3 linked regions of the Homo sapiens genome follow. The protein of the gene in region 2 purifies or fractionates together with the protein of the main gene of each other region. This does not show direct contact. Each region holds a gene or a part of one and is shown on either strand. Other genes may lie near its edges.

Region 1 (3,654 bases), on a different chromosome or scaffold from region 2:
ATCCTCCCACCTCAGCCTCCCAAGTAACTGGGACTACAGTCATGTGCCACCACACTTGGCTAATATTTTTGTATTTTTTTGTAGAGATGGGTTTCATCATGTTGCCCAGGCTGGTCTCAAACTCCGGGGCTCAAGCAATCTGCCTGCCCTGGTCGCCCAAAGTACTGGGATTACAGACATGAGCCACCATGCCTGGCCATAAGAACATCATTTTTTAAAGTTAAATATATACTCACAGTATATCATTTTTATATTGACAAGATGGCCAAAATTTAAAATCCTGACTATATCAAATTTTGGTGATTGGTGAAAATATGGTGTAATTAGGACATTTACACACTAATGGTAAGTGCATACATCAGCGCAACCACTTTGGAAAATTAAATTTAGAGCATTACCTAGTACAACTTAGCATGGTACTTGCCTTATGACCTAGCAATTATATCCTAGAAACTCTTGCAAATGGGCCCCATGAAACATGAACAATCTTTGTCATAGCACTGTTAGAGATAAGAAACAGGTGGGCGCAGTGGCTCATCCCTGTAATCCCTTGGCACTTTGGGAGGCCAATGTGGGCGGATCACTTGAGGTCAGAAGTTCAAGACCAGCCTGGCCAACACGGTGAAACCCCATCTCTACTAAAATATAAAAATTGGCTGGGCATGGTGGCGCCCACCAGTAATCCCAGCTACTTGGAAGGCTGAGGCAGGAGAATCGCTTGAACGCGGGAGGCAGAGGCTGCAGTGAGCCGAGATTGCACCACTGCGTTCCAGCCTGGGCGACAGAGTGAGACTCCATCTCATAAAAAAAAAAAAAAAAAAAAGGAATAAAATATCTGGAAACAACCCAAAGGTCTACTATCAGAAATTATCATATAGTTACTATAGAATGAAGAAATTACAGTATAGTTATACAGTGGAATGCAGCGAAATGAGTAAATTACAGCTCATACAATAATATGTGAAGACTAAACGCTGATCTTTTTTATATTTTCTCTCTTCTCCAAGTTCTTCACTAAGAGGCCTGGGGAGTCATGCCTTACTAATTACGAAATCTCACTGGACAGGTTTTTATTAACCCTATATAATACGACTTACTTTCCAACCTGACTCTGGTATGGCATCTTATGACAAATAGCAGACTCAGAAGGAAATCAGAATATTTTACCCCAAAATATATTTGACATTTTGAAATGGCTGCCACATGGCCAACGGATTTCAATGGCCCCACAAAGCCATGTTTCCTAGGGGAAATATGCATCTGTCAAGAATCTCCATTAATGCAACCAGGCCTTCCTTTCTAGGCCTTTCCTGGATCCAGGAGAGATTAACTGAGAGCCTGATAACATTAAAGTCTAAAAAGTGACATTTAGTATCTCTTCCCTCTGAGGGCTGCTACCTAGGAGGCTTCAATTAACTTAACAAGAACCTTGGCCTTCACAAGCCCCTTAACTCAAGCATTCCTTTCTACTTACCATAGCTTACCTCTATCAACCAACTACCAGCTGAAGAATCCTTAAAACCCACCTATGACTTGTAACCCCCTCTTTAAGATGTCCTACCTTTTGAGTGAGATCAATGTATACCTTGCATGTAATTCCTGTATCTAAAATGTATAAAACCAAGCTGTAACCTGACCACCTGGGGTGCACTTTGTCAGGGTTGTTTGAGATCGTGTAACCACAGGCTGCAGTCACTATCATATTGGCCCAGAACAAACCTCTAAATATATTTTGGCAGAAATTGGTTACTCCCATCACCATCTGGATAACCTCAAGAACATATACATTTGTTGAAAACAATTGCAGTAAAATACATAATGTACAATTGCATTTCATAGAAAACTAAATATTATTTAGGGACTGAGCATATGTGGAAAAACTACACAGAAAGCAAAGAAGTAAAAATTCAGGTTAATGATTCTGAGGGTGAAAGAGACAGGATAATGTGTTTTAAAAACTAGGTGATTTATAAGTGTTCACTGTAATATTCCTTACATTTTATATCTATATATGTATGTGTATATGTTTAAATGTTCTTTGGTATTAATTCAATATTAAATGAAAATGGAAGTATTTTTCATTTTCTATTTCATTTTTCTTCTTTTTTTTTTTTTTTTTTGAGATGGAGTCTTGCTCTGTTGCCCAGGCTGGAATGCAGTAGCACGATCTCAGCTCACTGCAACCTCCCCCTCCCAGGTTCAAGCGACTCTCCTGCCTCAGCCTCCCGAGTAGCTGGGACTACAGGTGCGCGCCACCATGCCCAGCTGATTTTTGTATTTTTAGTAGAGACGGGGTTTCACCATACTGTCCAGGATGGTCTCGATCTCTTGACCTCGTGATCTGCCTGCCTCCGCCTTCCAAAGTGCTGGGATTATAGGCGTGAGCCACCGCACCCAGCCTTCATTTTCATTTTCAATTTCACTTTCATTTTCAATATCTTTGTCATTTGGTTTCTTAAATCTTCATTCATCCAAACAATTTTCTTATTTTTACCCTCTGCCAAATTATTCCAACTGCCAAACAGTAATGAACTTCAGAAGAAGCTCCTGACAAACAACCAAAAACCTGGCTGGTCGCGTTTTTACAAGCTTGTGTTTGGTGGCTTGGTGTGGGGGGCCCTTAGGGATAAGGTGAAGAGATCAAGTTGTCAGAAGCTCCACTGACATGCCCCTCTGGGGAGAGTATAATAATGAGCTTTGAAGTCAGAAAGATCAGGGATGAAATCCAGGTTATGACACCTATTTGCCACATGACACCAGGCAAATTACCGCCTTCCTTTGTCCAACTCTCTCATATACAGAAGCAAGATAAGAATGAACAATGATGATGATCATGGAAGCTGCCATTTGAGATTTAATAAATACCAGGGACTAAACCAAGTCAGTTAATACGGATTATTCTGAAAGATCTTCATAATTAGGTAGGTAGCATTACCTTCCTCTGCCTAGCAGACAGGGTTTCATTGGAAAAATAACGTACTCAAAAGATTTAGCCCAACAGCTGAAAACACAGCAAGCGCTCAAAATATATATACTATATATATACCTACTGTTCAATATACTATATAGAGTATATATACATAGTATATACATAGTATATATGTATATATACATAGTATATACATAGTATATATACTACTATATACATACCATATATATTATATATAGTATATATACTACTATACATACCATATATATTATATACATAGTATATATCTACTATATACAGTATATATACTATATACATACTATATATAGTATAAATAGTATATATAATATAAATAGTATATATAGGATAAATATATATACTATATATATATATCTACTGTTCAAAAAAGGAGTAGGTATATCTCATTTATATTACTAAAATGTTCAAAGCATGAACAATGTAGAAATTAGAAGTACTCAGGAAAGAAGGCCTAATAATTCCTCTTCTAGAGGGAACCACTTCTAACCTTTTGGCACATTTCCGTTTTGCTTAACACAAAGTTGCAGTGGCTCATGCCAGTAATCCCAGTATTTTGGGAGGCCAAGGTGGGAAGCCTGTTTGAGGCCAGGTGTTCAAAACCGGCCTGGGCAATATAGCAAGACCATCCTCTCTACAAAAAAATAAAAAAACAAAATGAGCCAGGCGTGGTGGTGCATGCCTGTAGT
Region 2 (3,654 bases):
AACTAGTATTAGAGACTCAGTCTTCCACGGTCAGCCTCTCTATAGCATGAGAATAACCCATTTGGGGGTGGTTTTACTTACTTTTTGCTTTGATAACCCCTTAAGAGTAGAAATAGAATCGTCACAGTATGTAGAACTCTTGGCTAACTTTTTTTGATCAAAAAATTCTTCCTTGATCCATAACCACTTAGTAAAGTTCTTTATGAAAGGTTTTATTGCCTCAATAGTGGGTATTAAATGAGGCCTGTTAAGAGAAAGCATAAAACTCAGAAAACCACCATTGAAATGTTGGCTTTGTTCTGACTAGGTCAGACCAGTGACTCTCTCAACCCTACCAGTGAACCATGAGTGCCAGTGTTGTGACCATCACAATGACATTCATTGAAAAGTTAGGAAAACCCACAGTTTACCTGGCCAATGTTATATCACTCTCCTAAGCTGTGAGATGTTGACACAAAGGGCGATGGGTGATGAAATAAGGTATTTTGGTCTCCATTATGAGTCCATTGGCCTGCTGTATCATTCTGGGCTACAAACCTCTACAGAAGTAAGAGAAAAATTATTTCATTGTTGTTGTTCTGATGAGGTGCAAGGTTATAGTGGAAAGAGCAGGCTTTGGCATTAAACAAACTTAGGTTTGCACACATAACCCCGGGCTTTTTTTCTTTTTTAAATTCTTAGATCCTCAATCTACTGTGAAAGGTTAATGTGAGGACTAAAAATGGTACACTTAAAGTGCTCACCACAGCCTGGCATGTAGACAACCATGAGAAATGGTTACCACCATTATTATTGCCACTTAACATGGGGCAAGCCTTGCGAACAACTTTACTATATGATCGTTTGTCCCTAACCAGTCACCTTCCAGTTAATCTTCCCTGATACATCATAAACCTGGTTATGAGAGTGTGAGTTTTGAATTGTTTTATTATCTTTCAGATCTGTAAGAGCAAAGCTAAAGAATCTCAGCAGTATTATCACAGCTTGGCTGTCCGGCAGAGTCTGGCTGTCCATTTTAACATTCAGCAGGACTGTGGTCATTTCCTTGCTGAAGTCCCTAACCGTCTGCTTCCCTGGGAGGATCCAGATGACCCTGAAAAGGATGAGGATGACATGGAAGAGACTGAAGAAGACGCCAAAGGAGAAACGGATGGGAAAAACCCAAAGCCCTGTTCTGAAGCAGCATCATCCCAGAAAGAGAATCAGGGAGTCATGAGCAAGAAGCAGAGGAGCCACGTTGTGGTCATCACCAGGGAGGTTCCATGTCTTACTGTGGCTGATTTTGTGCGAGACTCTCTGGCCCAGCATGGGAAAAGCCCTGATTTGTATGAGAGGCAGGTGTGTCTGCTGCTCTTACAGCTATGCTCTGGTCTTGAGCACCTCAAACCCTACCATGTCACTCACTGCGATCTACGCCTAGAGAACCTGCTACTTGTCCACTACCAGCCTGGGGGGACTGCCCAAGGCTTTGGGCCTGCAGAGCCCAGCCCCACCTCATCTTATCCCACTAGGCTTATAGTGAGCAACTTCTCTCAGGCCAAGCAGAAGAGCCATCTGGTGGACCCCGAGATCCTCCGGGACCAGTCTCGCCTTGCCCCAGAGATCATAACAGCTACCCAGTATAAAAAGTGTGATGAGTTCCAGACAGGCATCCTCATCTATGAGATGCTGCACCTACCCAACCCCTTTGATGAGAACCCAGAGCTGAAGGAGAGGGAATACACACGAGCAGACCTGCCTCGCATCCCATTCCGCTCCCCCTACTCCCGGGGTCTGCAGCAGCTGGCCAGCTGCCTCCTGAATCCCAACCCTTCTGAGCGGATCCTCATTTCAGACGCCAAAGGCATCCTCCAGTGTCTGCTCTGGGGCCCCCGCGAAGATCTCTTCCAGACTTTCACCGCCTGCCCTAGCCTAGTACAGAGGAACACCCTGCTCCAAAACTGGCTAGACATCAAGCGAACACTGCTCATGATCAAGTTTGCTGAGAAGTCCCTGGACAGGGAAGGTGGAATCAGCCTTGAGGACTGGCTTTGTGCTCAGTATTTGGCTTTTGCCACTACAGACTCCCTCAGTTGTATTGTGAAAATTCTGCAGCACCGTTAATGTGTACCTGGATGATGCTTTTACTACATCTTCACCTTCTTCATGTCACCCATGCACTTCCCCTCCCTAGTGCTCACTCCAAATTCAAGGAAAGAAGAAAGGCAAACCTCTATCCCTGTCCGTGAACAAGTGGGTCTATTCAGAAAGGTTATCCACTGCCCCAGATTGAATGAGAAGCTGAGTCTGTCTTAACTTTACAGAAATTCAGCTGCACAAACTTGCAGTTGCCTTCCCTTGAAACACCTTCTATCCTAATAGTCCCATAAATGCAGGTAAAAATGAAAATCCATATTCTTGAAGGGACAGCTTCTTTGGTATGAACTCAGCCAGTGAGCTGTGTCCATTTCCTCCATAATTCTGGATATCACCTATCTTTTTAGCACCAAGTATTTATTCTCACTAGCAGTAGACAGACTTAACCAGTCTCTACCACGACCCAGTAGACTCTGACAACAGACTCTTCCTTTAAGGTGTCAACAACTGACTTACTAGGCAGGACTGCCATCCTTAGCATCAGCCCAGTTTTGGTTACCAGGGACTATATCTTTTGTTCCAGGAGAGAGTAGAAAGAAAAGGAGAGATCCCATCCTTGGGTCATAGACCCATTTTCATTGCCATTATCTGTAAGTATGTGCACTGCATGGAGGACAGCCCTAATAGTCTCCCCTCTGCTGCCACTGCCTGATTCTCCACTCTGTCCCCACTTGCCAGTGAAGTTTGGATTTATCAGCCACTTGTGGCCCATTACAGAGCTGACCCAAGGTGGTGTCACCAATGCCTCAGCAGGGTGGAGTGCAGTTCAGAGCTTATAAATAGCTGGCAGGGCATGAGGAGATGATTTTCTTGCATGTGCAATTCTCTAGGGGCCATCAGGAAACAGAGTTTAAAGTACCCTTTGATTACTGTCAGAACTGTCAGCATTTGCAGTTTTCCCCGAGCAGTAATTGGCCAGCTCCCTTCTATCAGTAGCCAGTGTTAACTAGTTTACCAAATGCTGTAAACAATTGCCCTGAATGAAATAGCTGTCAGTGGAGCTCTAAGATCTCCTTTAGAGGGCACAGTGAGGTGGGCTGTTGGGATGGCCGTAGGCAGGGGAGAGGAAGAAGGCCACTGATGAGACTGCTGACCTCCTCAGAAGGTTGACCTCTTCTAGAGAGACTGCCTCCCAGTGTTTAAGTGGCTCATTGCTCCTTCTGACTCTGTAAAATGGCTCTGGAGGACAGCTCACAGGAATTCTGATTGCTGAGGTGGGTGATTGAGAGCTGTTCACCATGTGTGCAGCCTGTGCTCCCCTTCTATGGATATGTGTGCAATTTTTGTATGTATTTTTTTAGCTGTATATTACAGTGTTTATGTTGCAACTTCACCTGAAGCGAGTCTACAGAAACCCTCCCCCTTCTTCCCTTGGCACATATTTGCGCTAAGAGATGAGCGTTCCTTCCACTGGGGTTGTGTGTGTGTGTGTGTGTGTGTGTGTGTGTGTGTGTGTGTGTGTATGTATACACATGTTCACCTGTGCTTGTTTTATTCAAAACTGTGAGTATGTGTTTA
Region 3 (3,654 bases), on a different chromosome or scaffold from region 2:
TGTTTCGGGTTCAGCATCAGCACAGGAGCCCTTCCGTGCTGCCACGTGACCCCTGGAGCTCGTTGATCCACTACCTGTGTGTTCAGGACTTCTCTCCTGAACGCTGTATATGTTGTTTGGAGAAACAATTACAGACATCAGATTTTCTTTTCTGTTGTAAGAAGAGATGATGCGTAGACATTTAAATTAAATCATTTGTTAATATCCTATACTGACAACCTGGCAGCGTTTGCAGGAGTGACACTGTGGACATGCTGTGCCCCACACGCTGCGGCCCCACTTACGCTGCTGGAGACGGTCCCCCACCCCGGGCCTCATCCTCAGCGAGGACCCCTGCCTGACACACACGGAGCTGGCAGTCAGCACCCCACCCCGCATGGAGCTGCGCAGCCCTGTGTCCCCACACACGGAGCTGGCAGTCAGCACCCCACCCCACATGGAGCTGCGCAGCCCTGTGTCCCCACACACGGAGCTGGCAGTCAGCACCCCACCCCGCACCTTGTGTCCCCGCACCTCGGCCATATTTCAGTTAACTACCAGATTCATCAGTGGGCCGGGGATGTGGGAAGCAAGATGATTCCCTGGTAGGCTCCACGGGGTCTCAGTGGGAAATGCAGGTGGAGGGACACAGCAGCCCTGGAAGTCCCGCGGCGCTGCCACGGGGAGGGCTGGACCACCCACTGCGGTGCCTCTCCCTCAGCAGGCACGCCCTCGTCGGCCTGGTTAGAAAATCATCTTTTGGCCTCACTGTGCCAGCCTAGTCAGCTCTCAGCTCCCTGAGTCAGGGAAAGGGGTGGAAAAGTGGACAGTCCAGCAGCGCATGTTCTAGAACCCTCTGCAGATGCAGCCAGGCCAGCGAGCACACGCAGGAGGCAGACGGACACCTTCTTGGGTGTTGAGTGGCTGCTCCTGCCTCAGGGCTGCAGATGCAGGCTCACAGCCCCCTGGTGAGTCCCGGAGTGGCTGCATCCAATCTCCAGATCCTCTGTCTTCCCATAAAGGAGACTGAACCCGTGGTGGTTTCTAGATCAAGATTTTTCTCTGAGTAACTCAGGGTTATTATAACATGCAACCTATGGTCACTTTGAAAAAGCTAATGAAAAAGCACTTGGATTTAACTTTGTGTCACTCAATTTTGGTATAAAACAACAACAACAGAAAACCAAGAACACCAAATTTACCGTAACCACAGTAAAATACGCATTTGAATATTCCGGTAGGAGGGCAGGCATCCCCCAGGTCCTGATAGATCCACTCCAGCAGTCAGGCCTGTGCTTGGGGACGCGTGGGCGGGTTGAGGATTGAGACGGTCTCTGATGATGCTAAAGAAGTGTTTCCTTTCTCTTTCCCCTTTCCCCCAACAGCTGCGGATAACCGTCTGGTCCTTGTGCACAAAATCCGTGTCTTACATCAAATACCCGAAAGCTTGTCTGCAGGGTGAGTCGATCGGAGCCACGCAAAAGCCATTTCTTTGCAGCTGTTTGACTTTTTTGTCACGGGAAGTTTCAAAGAGGCAGAAGTAGCTTCAGCAGCATATCAACACATAGCCAACCCCCTTGGGCTCTTTTAAAGGAGACCTTAGGTCTCCTCATACTTCATCTGTAAATATTTCCATATGTGTCTCAAAAAGGCAAGAGTCCCCTTTTAAAACATGACCACAGTGACTCAAGACAACGTGGCCTAAGACATGGAAGAACGGTGGCGTTGATGCCGGTCCCCTTGACCTTGGCGGCAGAGCTGGGCGTTCAGACCCCTTCCAGCCGATGCCTGTTGAGAGGCCCACCTCAGGCATCCAGTTCTGAGCTTTCTCTCTTCTGTGGACTAAATATGATGTCTGCGAAAGGGGGAGGTCTTGCCTGTCATCTCTGGGCATCCCAGAGGGATATGTGACCAGTGTCCCTTCCTTGTGGAAGCCTGTGAGCCATCTGGAAGAAAGGGGGCCGGCGCAGGGTGGCCCACTGCCAGCGCGTCTAACTGGACCGCGCAGAGCTAGTGGGAGGTGCCACTCCTGAGTCCTGGACGACACCGCACTGTCTTTTTGCGGAATGAAACATACACAGTTGGAATGATGCTTTCATTTTTCTCTGTTGCTGCCAGCGGTTTGGAAATTGCATTTGAATGCAATGCAGTCACACTCTTATTCTTATAGTTGGAATATTAGCGTCCCTCCAGATGAGATACATATCTCTTGATAGGAGTGGACACCGTGGTTTCGTCATTTGAGGTATTCTTTTCACTCAGGAATGATGAATTCTGGCCTAGGGCTTTTTAAGCTAATACAGAACTGGAAAATAAGAGTTTAACATTTTCAACTAAAGTTTCTTCCACATTTTCATCTTATTATTACTTTTTTGAGACAGGGTCTTGCTCTGTCACCCAGGCTGGAGTGCAGTGACACGATCACAGCTCAGTGCAGCCTCGACCTCCTGGGCTTAAGTGATCCTCTCACCTCAGCCTCCTGAGTAGCTGGGACTACAGGCACACACCATCACAGCCGGCTGATATTTTGTAGAGATGGGGTTTCACCAAGTTGTCTGGGCTCCTTTCAAATTCCTAGGCTCAAGCGATTCACCTGCTTCAGCCTCCCAAAGTGCCGGGATTACAGGCGTGAGCCACCATGCCTGGCCACACATTTTCATCTTCAGTTTACTTCTTCCAAATAATTAAATTCAAAGGTAAAATAAATATGGTAGGAACCAGCTGCCTTTTGCCTAGCTGGAGATAGCCCTGGGTGTCCCGCAGCTTAGACATGGGGGGACTCGAAGGCCTGTGTTTCTCACTCATATTTGTGATTAATCAGAGGTCACATCACTTGGTATTTTTGACAGAGCCTTGCAAACCGGCTCCTGTGTGTGTACAGCTTCCCCCAGCACACACTGCGTTGTGAGGGTGAAGGCACCGTGCCTTGGGTTTCTCCTCTGCGCTAGAATGTTCTTGTCTGTCTGAGGAGCAGTGCTCGGCATTGTGCCATTTCCCTTCTTTTCACCTCTGCTTTCTTTTCCTCCTCCTTCCTTGTGAATTACTACTGTGGTTTCTCTTGCTTGATTTTGTGGCCGCTTGATTTCAGTGCATTTGCCTCTTCCCACAGGAATCACCTTCACCAGGGACGGCCGCTACATGGCGCTGGCAGAACGGCGCGACTGCAAAGATTACGTGAGCATCTTCGTCTGCAGTGATTGGCAGCTCCTGCGGGTAAGGCGTCCCCCAGACTGGAATAAAGTTGTCCTGCTGACTGTGGAGGGATCGAGTGAAGTAGATCCTTCCAGATTCCAGGGGATCTTTGGTAGGATATGGAGCAAGGTGATGTTGTATTAACAAAGGGCAGGTGCGCTGCGAATCACTTCCAGTGGCACCCGGTTGTGTGTTCAGGAGACTTGGTGAAAAGGACGCGTGCCCAGGTGTTTTAAAAGTGAATATGCTGTCACATTTGAGCCCTTTTCCTTGTCCTGTGTGATGGTGTTTGCGCATGTGTGTGCCACGTCGGGAGTTGGGGGGACGTGGAAGTTCACCTTGACTGAGGGCCTGCATTAGGCAGGGCGCTCTGCCAGGTGCCCAGGCACAGAGGGCACTGCCCCCACAGCAGACATATGAACACGATTCCAGCACAATCCATCATTAAGGTAGAGCAACCTCTGGAATGCTGTCAGAGTGCAG

The links.
Region 1: the proteins of PEAK1 (region 2) and CARNMT1 purify together in Homo sapiens (co-immunoprecipitation; one large-scale study listed by IntAct). This does not show direct contact.
Region 3: the proteins of PEAK1 (region 2) and WRAP73 purify together in Homo sapiens (co-immunoprecipitation; one large-scale study listed by IntAct). This does not show direct contact.

Annotation. Positions count from the first base shown.
Region 1 is NC_000009.12:75,018,166-75,021,819, forward strand, and holds part of CARNMT1 (carnosine N-methyltransferase), read right to left. Parts: intron 1-3,654.
Region 2 is NC_000015.10:77,112,605-77,116,258, reverse strand, and holds part of PEAK1 (inactive tyrosine-protein kinase PEAK1), read left to right. Parts: intron 1-939; coding exon 940-2,103; 3' UTR 2,104-3,654. UniProt on the Homo sapiens protein: Probable catalytically inactive kinase. Scaffolding protein that regulates the cytoskeleton to control cell spreading and migration by modulating focal adhesion dynamics. Acts as a scaffold for mediating EGFR signaling.
Region 3 is NC_000001.11:3,636,533-3,640,186, reverse strand, and holds part of WRAP73 (WD repeat-containing protein WRAP73), read left to right. Parts: intron 1-1,364; coding exon 1,365-1,437; intron 1,438-3,088; coding exon 3,089-3,192; intron 3,193-3,654.